Linked DNA regions of Homo sapiens: region 2 is linked to region 1. Evidence: fine-mapped expression QTL. Tissue or cell type: NK cells. Region 1 holds a variant in brackets; the other region holds the start of a gene. All regions are shown on one strand. Distances are between the middles of the regions.

The links. PIP is the estimated chance that this variant, and not a neighbour inherited with it, causes the effect.
Region 2: PHLDA3 starts here. The variant in region 1 is the best candidate, but not a certain one, in a credible set for the expression of PHLDA3 in NK cells (Schmiedel 2018, PIP 0.86).

The regions. Positions count from the first base shown.
Region 1 is chr1:201,435,769-201,443,944 of GRCh38, reverse strand. No RefSeq gene overlaps it. Among named protein-coding and RNA genes, the nearest start is that of TNNI1, 18 kb to the right of the region's middle. The variant A/T (reference allele first, on the strand shown) is at 3,673.
Region 2 is chr1:201,466,054-201,474,229 of GRCh38, reverse strand. It overlaps PHLDA3 (pleckstrin homology like domain family A member 3), which reads left to right and starts at 5,042. Exons shown (of 2, transcript NM_012396.5): 1 at 5,042-5,889; 2 at 8,052-8,176. The coding sequence starts at 5,444. The coding sequence ends at 5,827. RefSeq lists silencers at 4,773-5,002, 5,213-5,522 and enhancers at 5,023-5,142, 4,657-5,371, 5,593-5,732, 5,803-5,862.

The DNA of each region.
Region 1 (8,176 bases):
ACAGCCATCAAATCCTTCCCTGGCCCTGAGTGTCTCTGTGGAACTAGGCCTTGCCTGCCTCAGCCCATTCCTTCCCTCCCATGGGCTCTGGGCCTGGGGAAGCAGGGTTTGCAGGGGCACAGCTGGGAGAGAGGCTTCCAGGTGCAGGGAGCAGGAATGAGACGAAGATGCTGGGAAAGCTGCTCTGGTGTGTGAGATCCAGAGGCAGAGAGAAGGCTGGGCATCATGAATGTAATTGCCTCTTTGACTTTTTTTTTTTTTCAGAAGGGGAAAGGGACTTTAGTTAAGATCTGAATGGTTTTTAAGTTGTTTTTGGTTTCCAGACATATATTTTATGTGCATCCCTGACTCAGAGGAGCCCTAAGACAGGCATGGGTGAGCGTGCTTCCTCATCCTCACCCCACCCCACCTGGCCCCCACTTTTCCTGCATTTTAACAAACACCCTTACCTTTTCCTTCCCTGAGAAAGCCAACTATTGGATGCGCTTAACCTGATTCCATACAAATGCCCAGCTTCTCTCTATCCACACCTCTCTCCCCTCCTGCCTCAGGGATCATGTTCCTTTTCCTGTTGAAGCCAATCTGGCCACTGGTGCTCTTTTCTTTTTTCCTTTCTCTTTCAATTTTTCTTTATTATGGCAAGTATGCTTAACAGAATTTACCATATTAACCATCCATGTTTAAGTGTAGAGTTTCGTGGTGTTAAGTACATTCACATTGTTGTGCAGCCATCACCACTGTCCATCCACAGAACTCTTTTCATCTTGCAAAGCTGAAACTCTGTACCCATTAAACAATAACTCCCCACGCCCCCTCCCCCAGCCCCTATTCTACTTTCTGCCTTACGAATTTGACCACTCTAGGAATCTCCTATAAGTAGATCATAAAGCATTTGTCTCTATTTTTTTTTTTTTTTTTTTGAGACTGAATCTCACCTGGTTACCCAGGCTGGAGTGCAGGGATGCGATGTTGGCTCACTGCAACCTCTGCCTCCTGGGTTCAAGCGATTCTCCTGCCCCAGCCTCCTGGGTAGCTGAAATTACAGGCATGCACTATCACGCCTGGCTAGTTTTTTTTTTTTTTTTTTTTTTTTTTTTGTATTTTTAGTAGAGACGGGGTTTCACCATTTTGGTCAGGCTGGTCTCAAACTCCTGGCCTCAAGTGATTTGCTGGCCTCAGCCTCCCAAAGTGCTGGGATTACAGGCATGAGCCACCACACCAGGCCTGCATTTGCCTTTTTGTTACTGATTTATTTCACTTAGCTTAATGTTCTCAAGGTTCACCTGTGTTATATCATGTGTGAGAATTTCTTTCCTTTTTAAAGCTGAATAATATTCCATTGTATGTATATATCACATTTTGTTTATTCACAAGCTTATTGGTTTTAGATGGGGTCTCTTTCTGTTGCCCAGGTGTACAGGTATTCCATTGTATGTATATATCACATTTTGTTTATCCATTCATTTGTTGTTTTAGACAAGGTCTCACTCTGTCACTTAAGCCGGAGTGCAGTGGCACAATCATGGCTCACTACAGCCTCAACCTCTCAGGCTCAAACAATCCTCCTGCCTCAGCTTCCCTACTATAGTAGTCCCAGCTACTTGGGAGGCTGAGGCAGAAGCCACCATGCCTAGCTAATTTTTTTTTTTTAATTTCTTGTAGAGGTGGGACCTCACTATGATGCCCAGGTTGGTCTCAAACTCCTGGGCTGAAGTGATCCTTCCACTTTGGCCTCCCCAAGTGCTGGGATTACAGGTGTGAGCCACCGTGCCCAGCCTCCATTCTTTTGTTGATGGACACTTGTGTTGCTTCTACCTTTTGGCTATTGTGAATAATGATGCTATGAACACAGGTGTACAAATATCTCTTCAAGATCCTGCTTTCAGTTCTTACACTCAGGAGTGGAATTGCTGGGTCATATGGTAATTCTATTTTTAATATTTGAGGAACTGCCATAGTGTTTTTCACAGTGGCTGTATTTCTATTCCCAACAACAGTGCACTAGTGTGCCAATCTCTCTATATCCTCACCAACACTTGTCATTTCCTGTGTATTTGATGGGAGCCATCCTAATGAGTGTGAGGTGGAATGTGGTTTTGGTTTGCATTTCCCCTATCAATTAGTGAAGTTGAGCATCTTTTCATGTGCTTATTGACTATTCATATATTTTCTCTGGAAAAATACCTGTTCAAGTCCTTTGACCATTTTTTAATCTGGTTGGTTGTTTTGTTGTTGAGTTGTAGTTCTCTATATGTTCTGGATATTAATATCTTATCAGATACATGATTTGCAAGTATGCTGTCCCATTCAGCAGGTTGCCTTTTCACTCTGTTGGTAGTGTGTTTTAATGCATAAAAGTTTTCAATTTTTATGAAGTCCAATTTGTCTATTTTTGCTTTTGATGCCTCTGCCTTTGGTGTCATATCCAGGAAGTCATTGCCAAATTCAATGTCGTAAAGTTTTGCCCTACATTTTCTTCTAAGTGTTTTGTAGTTTTTAGCTCTTATATTTGGGTCTTTGGTCCATTGTGAGTTAATTTTTGCATATGGTGTTACGTAAGGGTCCAACTTCATTCTTTATCATGTGGATATCCACTTTCCCCAGCACCATTTGTTGAAATGACTGTCTTTTTCCCACTGAAGGGTTGTGGCACCCTTGTCTAAAATCATTTGACCATATATGCGAGGGTTTGTTTCTGGACTCTCTATTCTATTCCATTGATTGATATGTCTGTCTTTATGCCAGTACCACACTGTTTTGAAGACTGTAGCTTTGTAGCTAAGTTTTGAAATCAGAAACTGTGAGACCTCCAGCTTTGCTGTTCTTTTTCACAATTGTTTTGGGTTTTAGGGTCCTTTGAGGTTCCACATAAATTTTAGGATGGATTTTTCTATTTTTAAAGAAGATGTTGTTGGGAGGCACTAATGCCTCCCAACAACAATCCTCTGTTCCTGTTAGCTCTTTCTCCACAGGCACCTTCTCTTTGCTATAAACATGCTCACTTCTTTGTCATCCTAACAACTACTCCTTTGACCCCGTGTCCACCTCAGATATTTGTTCTATTTATCTTTACATATTTTAAAATCCAACCTCCTTGAAAAAGAAGCTCACTCTCTCACTTCCTCATGTATGCCCACGTGCTTCTTTTTATTAGCTGATTTTAATTTTTATGAAGACAATGAATGGCCACAGTTTAGAAAGATGAAAAAGTGCCACATTTCTTATAATGAAAACAGCAGTTTCCTGTGCCCCACTCTCCCCAAAGGCAGCCACTTAATTTTTCTGATATTCCAATGTGTATTTGCAACAACAGCCTGATAGTGCTCTTTGTAGATTTTTCAGTTTAAATACTATCTAGCCCAGGTGTGGTGGCTCATGCCTGTAATCCCAGTGCTTTGGGATGCCGAGGCGGGATCACCTGAGGGCAGGAGTTTGAGACCAGCCTGGCCAACATGGCAAAACCCCGTCTCTCCTGAAAATACAAAAATTAGCTGGGTGTGGTGGCGGGCCCCTGCAGTCCCAGCTACTCAGGAGGCTGAGGCAGGAGAATCACTTGAACCTGGGAGGCAGAGGTTGCAGTGAGCCGGGATCTCGCCACTGCACTCCAGCCTGGGCGACAGAGCGAGATACTCCATCTTAAAAATAAATAAATAAATAAATAAATAAATAAAT[A/T]AATAAATAAATTAATTAAAAAAATAAATACATACTATCTAAACTGACTTCTTGTGACGGAAGGCAAGAACAGTGCAAACCTCACCCCAGCCCCCATGCAAACCCATCCCCCATCCTTTCAATACATTTAGTTTCATCTCAAGTTTTGGTTAAGTTAAAAATAGTTACATAACTTTGATTAGATAAATTTTCTTACATCCCATGTAGTATATTATGATTAACCTTCCCTACTTATATGATTTTTGGTTTTCTCTGAAGTTAAGTTTTGCCGTGTTTTTATTTGCTTAGTTGTCTATATATGTTTCATGACTAAATTAGCCTCTTTTTCCTCTTGGCCTAGAGGGCTCAGTAGATCCAAACCTGTGAGGAAGTTATGAGCACTCTTCTCTCTTCTCTCTTTTCTTTTTTTTTTCTTCCATACCCCTCGCCTGCCCCCAGTCTCCCGCTCTAATCTGTGCTAGTTACTTACTGGGCCTCATATACAGCTGTTAGTGATCCTAGAGCTTCCCTCTCCACTGTCCTGGGAATTTCCTTTGCCTCTTACCTACAGGATCCCAAATTCCCTGAACCCCATGCCTGCCTTTTGGTGATTTGCTCCTTCGTTTTGGTGAAACCCAATCTCTAGTACCTTCCTGAGAAAAGAGGCAAGAGAATTTAGAAACTTTGCATATATGAAAATATCTTTCTTCTGCTTCTTTTTTTTTTCTTTTTTTTGAGACTGAGTCTCACCCTGTTGCCCAGGCTGGAGTGCAGTGGCACCATCTCGGCTCACTACAAGCTCTGCCTCCTGGTTCAAGTGATTCTTCTGCTTCAGCCTCCAGAGTAGCTGAGATTACAGGCATGTGTCACCACGCCTGGCTAATTTTTGTATTTTTAGTAGAGACGGGAGTTTCACCATGTTGGCCAGGCTGGTCTTGAACTCCTGAGCTCAAGTGATCCGCCTGCCTCAGCCTCTCAAAGTGCTGGGACCATAAGCATGAGCCACCACACCCAGCCAGAAAATATCTGTCTTCTACCTTGACAGTTAATTGATAATTTACCTGGGCATACATAGAATTCTAGTTGAAAATTATTTTCTCTTAGAATTTTTGGGCCAGGTGCAGTGGCTTATGCCTGTAATCCCAGCACTTTGGGAGGCCAAGATGGGCATATCACTTGAGGTCAGGAGTTTGAGACCAGCCTGGCCAGTGTGGCAAAACCCCATCTCTACTAAAAATACAAAAATTAGCTGGGCGTGGTGGTGCGTGCTTGTAATCCTTCCTACTCAGGAAGCTGAGGCAGGAGAATTGCTTGAACTCGGGAGGCGGAGGTTGCAGTGAGCCGAGATTGTTCCAGTGCACTCCAGCCTGGGTGACAGAGGGAGATTGTCTCAAAAAAAAGAAAAAAAAAATTTTTTAAAGAGATTTTTCTATTGTATTCTAGTTTCCTGTGTTGCTCTTGAGAAGCCTAAAACTATCCAACTTTGAATCTTTTGTATGTGACCCATTTTTCTCTTTGGAAGTTTCAAGTGTCTTCTCTTTGTCTCCCGTGCCTTAGGTCTTTGTGAATAATACAGCTGGGACTTGGTAAGCCCTAGCCCCTGGAACGTTGTGCGTTCAATTTCTTTGGTAACTATCTCCATTTCCAGCTCTTTGTTTTGTTTTTCTGGAGTTCCAAGTAGTAAAATATTGGACTTCCTGGATGATCTTGAATTTTCTTATCTTTCTTGATCTATTTTCCATCCTTTTTTTGTGCCTCTGGAATCTTTCTTCAACTTTATTTTCTAGCCCTTCCAATTAACATGTTATTGTTGCTGTCATATTCCTAATTATTAAGAGTTCTTGCCGGGCGCGTTGGCTCACGCCTGTAATCCCAGCACTTTGGGAGGCCGAGGCGGGTGGATCACGAGGTCAGGAGATGGAGACCATCCTGGCTAACACGGTGAAACCCCGTCTCTACTAAAAATACAAAAAATCAGCCGGGCGTGGTGGTGGGCGCCTGTAGTCCCAGCTACTCGGGAGGCTGAGGCAGGAGAATGGCGTGAACCCGGGAGGTGGAGCTTGCAGTGAGCCGAGATCGCACCACTGCACTCCAGCCTGGGCGACAGAGCCAGACTCCGTCTCAAAAAAAAAAAAAAAAAAAAAAAAGAATGAGAAAGAGTTCCTTTTGTTTTCTGAATGTTATTTTTTCCTTTTTTGTATGGATTCTCTTCCCATTTCATGGGTGCAATATTATCTCTCTGTCTTTGGAAATATTAATCATAGTTTTTTGATGTTTTGTTCTGTTGTTTGCATTGTATGTTTTGTAAACCAACAAGTGTCTGAGACAGATCTCAGTCGATTTAGAAGTTTATTTTGCCAAGGTTGAGGACACGCTTAGGAAAAAGAAACACAAACCACGGTAGGATCTGTGGCCTATGCTTTTTTCCAGAGAGGGTTTTGAGGACTTTAGTGTTATATTAATTATTAATAAAATTAATAATATCACATTAATTAACTATATTAATAGTCCCTTCAGGACTCTGTCTCCCCTTGACTTCTGTGACATCATACTAATCTTATTCTAGCCCTGTCTCTTTTTCTCTCCTCTTCTGAGTTTCTTCCTCTGCCTCCCTTTAAAACACATCAATGGTTGGGTGTGGTGGCTCACACCTGTAATCCCAGCACTTTGGGAGGCTGAGGAGGGTGAATCACCTGAGGTCGGGAGTTCGAGACCAGCCTGGCCAACATGGTGAAACCCCATCTCTACTAAAAATACAAAAATTAGCCAGGCATGGTGGGCACCTGTAGCCCCAGCTACTCGGGAGGCTGAGGCAGGAGAATCGCTTGAACTGGGGTGGGGGAGGTTGCAGTGAGCCAAGATTGCACCACTGCACTCCAGCCTGGATGACAGAGTGAGACTCTGTCTCCAAAGAACAAAACAAAACAAAACAAAACAAAACAAAACAAAACAAAACAAAACACATCCATGCCCCTTGGGGCTTATTCTTAACCTTCGTCTCTTCCATAGTGAGAGTAAACTTGCTAGAGTTCCCCACACACCATGCTTTCTTAGGCCACTGTGCCGTGGCCAGGCTGTTCCTTGGGTCTGTAGTGCCCTTTGTCCTTGGTTGCCTGATGAACTCCTATACATCCTACAAAACCTGGCTCAGGGCTTATGCCCCCTGCAAATCTTCTCTTGAGTCCCCTCTGAGAGAATTAATCACTACCTTCTCAGTATGACATTAAAACACGTTATTGCATGTATTATAAATGTTTGGGGAGTTTTTATATATTCATGTGGCCAACAAGGCAGGAAAAGCAGGCTTCCCTTCTGTCTGGATTTTAGACTGCATCACAAAAAATTCACATTTATCAAGGTAGGTGGAGAGGATACCAGGGAGGGTATAGCAAGAGTATACTTCACTCCAGGCTGAACCCCCTGAATTATTCTGAGGTGGCTGCACCTGGAGTTGGGAGTGAATATCATTTTGTTACAGGCTGTGAGATTCTTGGCTCCCTGGACTCCGCAAGGCACCTTGGGAACCTCAATATCCTTCAATAGTGGAAACGGGAATTTTCTTCATACCTCGGTCTCCTGAGGCATCAGGGACCATCCACTCACTCCTGGCTCCACACCTCCCTCTAGGGTCAGCCGCCTTCTCTCCAAGCTCTCTCCACTTCTCAGTGTCACTGTTGGCCACGCCCAGAGAGGAGCAGGGGCTACTGCAGCTGGTGTCTCTTCCTGGGATGAAGCATCTTGAAGTCTTTAGAGACACTTGTGCACACACTACAGGCCTCCTTCCCATGTGTGTCCTTGAATGGGTTCCAGAGGGTCTCTGAGCCCGCTGGAATTGGTGTGGAATAGCTTTTGGCTTTTCAAAATGATGTGTGTGAATGCTTTTGCATTGCAAAAGTTTTCAAAGGAAGCTTGAACCCCCTTCCAAAAGTTAAGAACCATAGAACACTTAGATCCTCAAGGGAATTCTGGGATTACAGGGAGACCTCACTTTAAGAAAGATAGACAGGTCCAAAGCAACTATGTTGGAGTTACAGTAACTGCATTGCAAGACGCTTCTCTCACATGAACTGTATTTGTTGCTCTCCAAGCTTTAGCCCTGGAATCCACCCAGATCACCTAGCTGTGAACAAGCGTGCAGGGAAGGTTCAGGGAGTGATGAATAAGAGGCTGGGACTGGAAACACTTTTGATTGTTTATCATGTGGGTGGAGGGAGGAGGGACATTCACATACAATCAGCCACTTTGAAAATTTCACACCCAAGCGATCTCAGGCATATAGTCAGTCACAAACAAGTCACCCACACGTTCTTTCCCTTTCTCTCTCTGTTTCTCTCTCTCTCTTCACACACACACACACACACACACACACACACACACAGGCACGCGCACACACATGCACACACATGCACCAAGGCTCACCAATGCTCCCTCTGGTGGCAAGAAGAAGAACTTTATCTCTTTATTCCAGGAATAGAAATACAGCTCCCGGGACTAGGTCAGCCAATGCCAGGTTTTTCTCACATAA
Region 2 (8,176 bases), 30 kb before region 1:
CCTTTTCCACCTCCCAGTTTTTGTCAGGTACATTGTCATTTCATTTTCTCATTCGATAATTATTCATTCAGTTCCTACAGTGTATTAGGCAATGTTCTAGGTGCTGGAGCCACAGGGGTAAAAAAAACAGATAGGCTGGACGCGGTGGCTGACGCCTGTAATCCCAGCACTTTGGGAGGCCGAGGCAGGCGGATCACGAGGTCAGGAGATTGGAACCATCCTGGCTAACACAGTGAAACCCCGTCTGTACTAAAAATACAAAAAGTTAGCCGGGCATGGTGGCGGGCGCCTGTAGTCCCAGCTACTCAGGAGGCTGAGGCAGGAGAATGGCGTGAACCCAGGAGGCAGAGCTTGCAGTGAGCTGAGATCGCGCCACTGCACTCCAGCCTGGGCGACAGAGCGAGACTCTGCCTCAAAAAAACAAACAAACAAAAAACAAACTCCCCGCTGGCATAGAGCCCACAAGTAAAGGAGATAGACAATAAGTAAGAAAAATACAATTGTGGATGCTAATATGTGCCATAGAGAAAAATTGAGCAGGGACGGGATACAGTGTGTGTATGTACATCTATGGAAGGGGGTTGTGGCTTTAAACACAGTGTTGGGAGAAGACCCCATTGAGAAGGTAATACGTGAACACAGCTTAGTGTGGTGAAAAAATGAACCATTTGGTGATCTGGGAGAGAGGATTCCAGACAGTGAGGACAGCAGGTGCAAAGGCCCTGAGGAAGGATGGTTGCCAAGTTCAAGGGATGGTGAGGACTGTGGCTGGAGCCAGGGATAGAGGAAAGTACAGGAGGTAAGATCAGAAAGTGAAGAGCAGGTCTTAGAGGGCCTTGCAGGTAGCATCAATGACTTTGGCTTTACTCAGAATGAGATGAGAAGACTCTGGTGGCTTTTGAGCAAAGGAGTGATATCATCCTTAGTTTTAAAGTTTTTGCAGTGTTAATGTACGTCTTGTTTTGTTAATAAATTGTCTTCAACACTTTTCTTTAGATTGAGTCTAACAATTTATGAAGAATTTATATAAGATTAAGTAGACAGCCAGGCGCAGTGGCTCATGCCTGTAATCCCTGCTCTTTGGGAGGCTGAGGCTGGTGGATCGCCTGAGGGCAGGAGTTCGAGACTAGGCTGGCCAAAATAGTGAAACCCCGTCTCTACTAAAAACACAAAAAATTAGCTGGGCATGATGGCAGGCGCCTGTAATCCCAGCTACTAGGGAGGCTGAGGCAGGAGAATCGCTTGAACCCGGGAGGTGGAGGTTGCAGTGAGCCGAGGTCGTGCCATTGCACTCCAGCCTGAGCAACAAGAGCAAAACTCAATCTAAAAAAAAAAAAAAAAGAATTAAGTAAATATAGAAAACAAAAGCTATGTTACTTTTTGCATCTCTCTGGGTCTCATTCTTACCTCTAACCCGCCTTATTCCCATCTTTCTTTCCGCCTTGTCCTGGGTAGCCACCCAGAGGGACCCCTCCTCTCCACTTGGACTTCCTCCTTCTCACACAGGTGTGGAGGTGGTGTGGCTCAGCCCTAGCTAGAACCATTTCCAGCACATTCTTCCCTGGGGCCATTTTGTAGTCTAGCCTGTTCCAGCCGGACTTGGATTTACTGACGGTGCAGATCTGCTTTCTCTTTGGGGTGGGCAGAGGGAGAAGCCAGCTCTGGGCTGCTACCATGGGACATTTTGTCCATCAGCCAGATGTGGAGTTAACAAGTCAATGATAATTGAGTAAGTGATGGGGCGCGGTGGCTCACGCCTGTAGTCCCAGGACTTTGGGAGGCTGAGGTGGGCAGATCATGAGCTCAGGAGTTCGAGACCAGCCTGGCCAACATGATGAAACTCCATCTCTACTAAAAATACAAAAATTAGCCAGGCATGGTGGCAGGCGCCTGTAATCCCAGTTACTCGGGAGGCTTAGGCAGGAGAATCACTTGAGCCCAGGAGGCGGGGGTTGCAGGGAGCCGAGATTGTGCCATTGCACTCCAGCCTGGGTGACAAAGTGAGACTCCATCTCAAAAAAAAAAAAAAAAAAAAAAGAATTGGGTAAGTATCTCTAGGGCCCAGCACTGCTCCAGCCCAGTGACTTAACCAAGAAGTTTAAGTCAGAGCTCCTGTTCCAGGGGATGGGTAGGGATACCTCAGCAGGAAGGGAGGAGCAGCACCAGCCCTCTCTGCACGCTGCTCCCCTGGCTTTTGAGTTCTTCTTGATCCTTCTGATGGCCCAAATAATCCAGCCTGGGCCTGAGCCTCTCCCAGATGTGGCTACCAGGCAAGATGCCAGTTCTAGGGAAAGATTTGGAATGAATCATCTCCCCTAGTCCCAGAGGTCTTGAGATTGGAGGACAGGATTCCAGGTTCCAAGGACCCATTCAGGCCTCCAGGAAGACGTTGTCGTGTTAGGAACTGGATGCTTAGCTGATGAAGACCCTTCCAGCAGTAGAGTATGTCCTGCTAAATTTCCTCCAATGGCCCCCCACCCCCATCTTTATCTGCTCACTCTTGCTATCCAATGTTCCCTTCTCCTGTGTCCAAAAGCCCGCTACCTCGCAACTCAGTAAGCTGAAGAGAAAAGTATGGGTGACTGGATCATTTTTAAAGGAACTATGTGGACTCAGATGTTCATGTATGGGCAGTATGGGTATGTATCATCAAACGATCCTGGGCCCTGTTAGCCACCATGCATTCTCATCTGGACTTTGCCATTTTCAAAGCCATGTGACGCCATTTACATTATCTGACCTCTCTGGGTCTCATTTTTCTCATCGGTAAAACGCCCACAGTGATAATAATATCTGTCTATCATGAGCATCTACAACATGTGAGAGGGCTCTGTACGAAGCCCATACAACTGTGAATCCACCTGGAACTGGAAAGAGCATGAATGAGTCCCAGACCCAGTGTGGGGAGAAGAGGAACTGGTAGAGATAAAACAGCAGTGGCCCACGCATGTAATCCCAGCACTTTGGGAGGCCAAGGCAGGCGGATCACCTGAGGCGGGGAGTTTGAGACCAGCCTGACCAACATGGAGAAACCCCGACTCTACTAAAAATACAAAAAATTAGCCAGGTGTGGTGGCAGATGCCTGTAATCCCAGCTACTTGGGAGGCTGAGGCAGGAGAATCGCTTGAACCTGGGAAGCAGAGGTTGCAGTGAGCCGAGATCGCACCGTTGCACTCCAGCCTGGGCAACGAGGGCAAAACTCCGTCTCAAAAACAAAAACAAAACAAAACAAAAAAATGAGTTAGGGGTAGAGCCTGATCTAGGGCCCTGTTTCCTCAGAGAGAGAACTTTGGATCATGGCAGGACTGTGCCAGGTTGGTGCACCCAGGAGACCCCTGTGGAGTGGTGGGGAGGAGCCATGGGAGGGCAGGGCTGGCAGGCAGGCTGAGACCTTGTGGGTCCCTCAGGTAGGGCCGTGGCCACCTCGAGCTCCCTCTTCTGCTGCTCTCTGGGCCTCAGGAGACACCTGTCTTTGTCTTTTCTTTAATGCCACTGTCTATTCCCTCTCCTGGAGGGGCATTCTGGGAGTTAGGAGTTAGTTGTCGTCACACGTGTGTGTGTGTGTGTGTGTGTGTGTGTATAAAGAGTTATGGATGAGACACTGACAGTTCCCTTCTCTCATCTCCTAACTTTGGGACTGCAGAGGAGCGCACTCCTATCCCCACAACAGGACCTTCCCTGTATCTGTTAGGCTCTGCTCTTTGGGCAGGAGGATGGCAACACAGGGTGTAAGTACAAAGAGGTCTTATTACTGTCATTATTATATATCATTACTCCCGTAAGAATCTATTATTAACATGTTGATGAATAGACCTTTAAGAAACTGTGGGCCTGGAGGAACTGATCAAGATGGGGACAGAATGAGGACCTAAGAGAGCCCTCTTCCAGTGCCTGGCTTAATCTCAGGGCCCCCATCATTCTCTAAAGGGAATAAGAGTGGGGAGAGGGGAGGAAGAACATTTCTTGAGACTCAAGAGTTGTCAGGTCCTGTCTTGGGTCTTTCACAAATGTTATCCAACTTATTCATCAGGACAACCCCATGAGATGAGAATAAATTAATCCTCCTATTCGACAGATGAGGAAATTGACGGAGGTCAGTAAAGTTGCCCCAGGTGGGCAGGACACAGCCAACAAGGGAGAAGAGGTTTGAACTCAACTCTGCAAAGCTCTTGTGTTTACACAATATTCTAGCCAGAACAGAAAGAGACCTCTCCCTCTGCGTTCCCCTCCAGCTCTGTATGCGGGAGAAGTCCATTCTTGGGGAAGGCCGAGGGAGGACAGAATCTGCGGAGCGGAAGGAGCAAGGTTGGAGCTGCGCTTACACCTGGGACTGGCTGTGCCATCGGTCCAGCGTCGGCGCCTGCAAGTGTGCGGTGGAGAGGACTGCAGACAGTGGCATCCCCAGGTCACGGAGGGGGTCCCTCCTCCCCCACTACGAGGAGGGCATGAATGACCTCAAGCCTCAGCTCTCCTTTGTTGGCACTGGCTACTCTCTACAGGCCTCCCCGCGCAATGCATGGGGGTAGGAGTAGGAGCAGGTGAACTGTCCAAGCAGAGGCAGCGATGGACAGCCTCTCTTGGGTGCTGCACAGAGAAATCGGGCGATGGAGGAGGAACCCAACATGGGCTTGATGCAGAGGCTGGGGGCCCCATGGCGTGCCAAGTAACCAGCAGCTGTCTGACGCCTAACATGCAACTGGTGCCACTGCGCGTTCGCCAAGCAAGCCCACCCCCTTGCTAGCAGCGCGCTCTCCAATCGAGGAGATGCGCCTTCCCCCTCCCTTCCCCGCCATCTCCCCCTTCATTCAAGGCCTGGGGGAGCTGCGGTTCCGAGAAGCGGCAGACGGCAGCCAGAAGGCTTGGGCTGTTGAGTAAGCAGCCCCCTCTCAGTCCCGGCCCTCCCCGCCCCGCGCCCTGCGCCTCCAGTGAGTGACTGAGCCCCCGCTGCGGCCCCGCCCCCGGGGCCCTGCCGGAGCTGGTGCGCGGCGCGGAGGGGAGGGCCGGCCAGGGTAGGAATGCGCTGCGGGCGGGCGGCGCAGGAGGCGAGCGGCGGAACATGTAAGGGCACATCCCGCGAGCTGCCGCCCAGCGCGCAGACAGAGCCCAGGGGAGCAAGAGAACGGGCGGGCGGTGGGGCTCACGGCCTAGGGAGGCGCGGAGGCATCTGGCAGAGGCGGGTCGGGCTGGGCCAGCTGGGGTAGAGCGGAGGAGCGGGTGCCGGCTGAAGCGGGGCGGTGGGCGCGGAGCGCGCTGGGGGCACCGACACCACCTCACCGGCAGCCGGGTGCTGAGGGCCGCGGTGTGGGTGCGCGGAGCAGTCAGGGCGCAGGTGGGCAGCGCGCACGGCCTGCCAGCCCGGGGCGCCAGAATCCTGCGCTGCGGGGCCGAGAGGGGCGCCGCGCCCGCCGCAGCCTGGAGCTTTCCGCGAACCTCGGGGCGCCCATGACGGCGGCGGCGACGGCTACCGTGCTCAAGGAGGGCGTGCTGGAGAAGCGCAGCGGCGGGCTGCTGCAGCTGTGGAAGCGGAAGCGCTGCGTCCTCACCGAACGCGGGCTGCAGCTCTTCGAGGCCAAGGGCACGGGCGGCCGGCCCAAGGAGCTCAGCTTCGCCCGCATCAAGGCCGTGGAGTGCGTGGAGAGCACCGGGCGCCACATCTACTTCACGCTGGTGACCGAAGGGGGCGGCGAGATCGACTTCCGCTGCCCCCTGGAAGATCCCGGCTGGAACGCCCAGATCACCCTAGGCCTGGTCAAGTTCAAGAACCAGCAGGCCATCCAGACAGTGCGGGCCCGGCAGAGCCTCGGGACCGGGACCCTCGTGTCCTAAACCACCGGGCGCACCATCTTTCCTTCATGCTACCCACCACCTCAGTGCTGAGGTCAAGGCAGGTAAGCCCCCGGGGGACTGGGCCCTCTTCTCTCCTTCCCTCCCTTCTCTTTCCCCTACAGAGAGAATGAGGACTAGCATTCTACTTCAGAGCCGGACATCTTAGGGGGGAGGTTCCTGGGGCCAACTGAGGGCATGGGAGGCTTGGGCCAGTGGCCAACCCAGCAGATCCGGACTTTCCCCTGAGGCACCAGGTTGGCCGGTCCAGAATGTGATCCAGGTGTGTGAGAGGAAGATGGAAGCCCTGGGAGGGGGATACCTGGGTGAGATGAGCCTTCTTTCAAGTTGGTTCAGCCCTGACTCAGGTGGAAGGAAGTAGAGGGAGGTTGGCCTGCACATTGCCCCAGGCTGTGGGCCTCTGCTTTCCACGCAGAGCAGGGCTCCTGGACTTCGGCTTTCTGGCAGCTGAGGACAACCGAGGGTGGGGACGCGGATCGTGGAGGCCGACCCTCTTTCCCTCTAGGTTGAATGCTTGTCATAAAGTTTGAGCATTGAATTGATGTAGAAAGACAGTATCTCCCAGATGGCGAAGGCACCATCAAGGGTTGCAAATAGAGCCAAGGAGTCCGGCTCCCAAGGTGGGGCCTCAGTGGAAGGTGGGGCCTCAGTGGGCCGCCTTGGCTGGACTGGGCCTGAGGGATCCAGCTCCTCCTCTACATATGTGTGTGTGTGTGTGTGTGTGTGTGTGTGTGTGTGTGTGTGTATGGTTTGTTGTTGTTGTTGTTGTTGTTTGAGACAGAGTCTCGCTGTGTCACCCAGGCTGGAGTACAGTCGTGTGATCTTGGCTCATTGCAACCTCTACCTCCTGGGCTCAAGCAAATCTCCTGCTTCAGCTTCCAGAACAGCTGGGATTACAGGTGCCTGCCACCACACCCTGCTAATTTTTGTATTTTTAGTAGAGATGGGGTTTCGCCATGTTGGCCAGGCTGGTCTTGAACTCCTGACCTCAGGTGATCTGCCTGCCTCGGCCTCCCCAAGTGCTGGGATTACAGGTGTGAGCCACTGCACCCAGCCTATATATATATTTTTGAGACAGGATCTCTACCTGTCGCCCAGACTGGTGCAGTAGCATAGTCATGGCTCACTGCAGCCTCAACAGCTTCAACCTCTTGGGCTCAAGCGATCCTCCCACCTCAGCCTCCAGGTAGCTGGGACTACAGGCACACGCCACCATGCCTGGCTAATTTTTTTTTTTGTAGATTTGGGGTTTCCCCACGTTGCCCATGCTGGTTTCGAACTCCTGAGCTCAAGCAATCTGCCCACCTTGGCCTCCCAAAGTGCTAAGATTACAGGTGTAAGCCACCACACCTGGTCCCCATTCTTGACAGTGGGTTTTGAGCCCTAGGGCTCACTGTTAGGAGAGCAAGGGAGCTGAAGGATAGGCAACTGCGCCAGAGGCTGGGCCACTGATGCCAAGGGGTGGGGGCCTAGCTGTCTACCTGCCCCTGAGTGCCAGTCAGGCCTGGCTGGGCCAGGGAAGGAGAAGCTGGAGGAGGGCATGGGGCACTGGGGCAGGGTGGGTGGGTGCAGCAGGATGGGGTCATGAGTTGTTATTTGTGATGTCTTAATCCTCTATGAGCAGTAGGGCAGGGAGTGGGGGGCGGATTTGTGGTCAGGAAGGCCCAGGGGAGGGGCCAGGAATAGAATCTGGAAGCCCTGGCTCTCAGCCCTGTGCCCTCTTCCCCAGATGCCACTCCCTTCTTGTGAGAAGTAGGAGTAGGGCTGAGAAAGGATTTAGCCTTCCTTCTAGCCTTAATTTTTCCAGTGGAAACCTAGATCCTTCTCTCCCCACTACCACCTCCTAGGCGACCTTACCCGCCTGCAGATGTCTTCAACAGTAGAGAGTCCTAGTGAGCCTGGGGCCCCATCTAGTGCCATACCCCACTTTGATGGTCCTGTTAATGCCCTCCCACATTGTAGTTAGGGTTTAGCTGAGAAGTGGGGTATAAGGCAGACCCCCTGTGCTGAGGATTGATCCACATTGATCCCTCAGGTCTTGGGGGCCTGGGAGGAAGCAGATTCCTTTACCACAGTACGTATGCAAAAAATGTTTTCCATGTTTATGGAAAAGGCTGGGAAGTGCTGGTGTAAAATGCCCAAGCTCATAATAGATACTCCTTTCTCCATTGTTGCCCCTGCTCTAACTGCTGTTCTTTCTTGCCAGCTTCGTTGTTCCCTCTGGCTTGTGGGGGCACGGCTGTGCTCCATGTGGCAAGGTGGAAGGCATGGACGTGTGGAGGAGGCGCTGGAGCTGAAGGAATGGACGAGCCCTGGGAGGAGGGCAGAAGG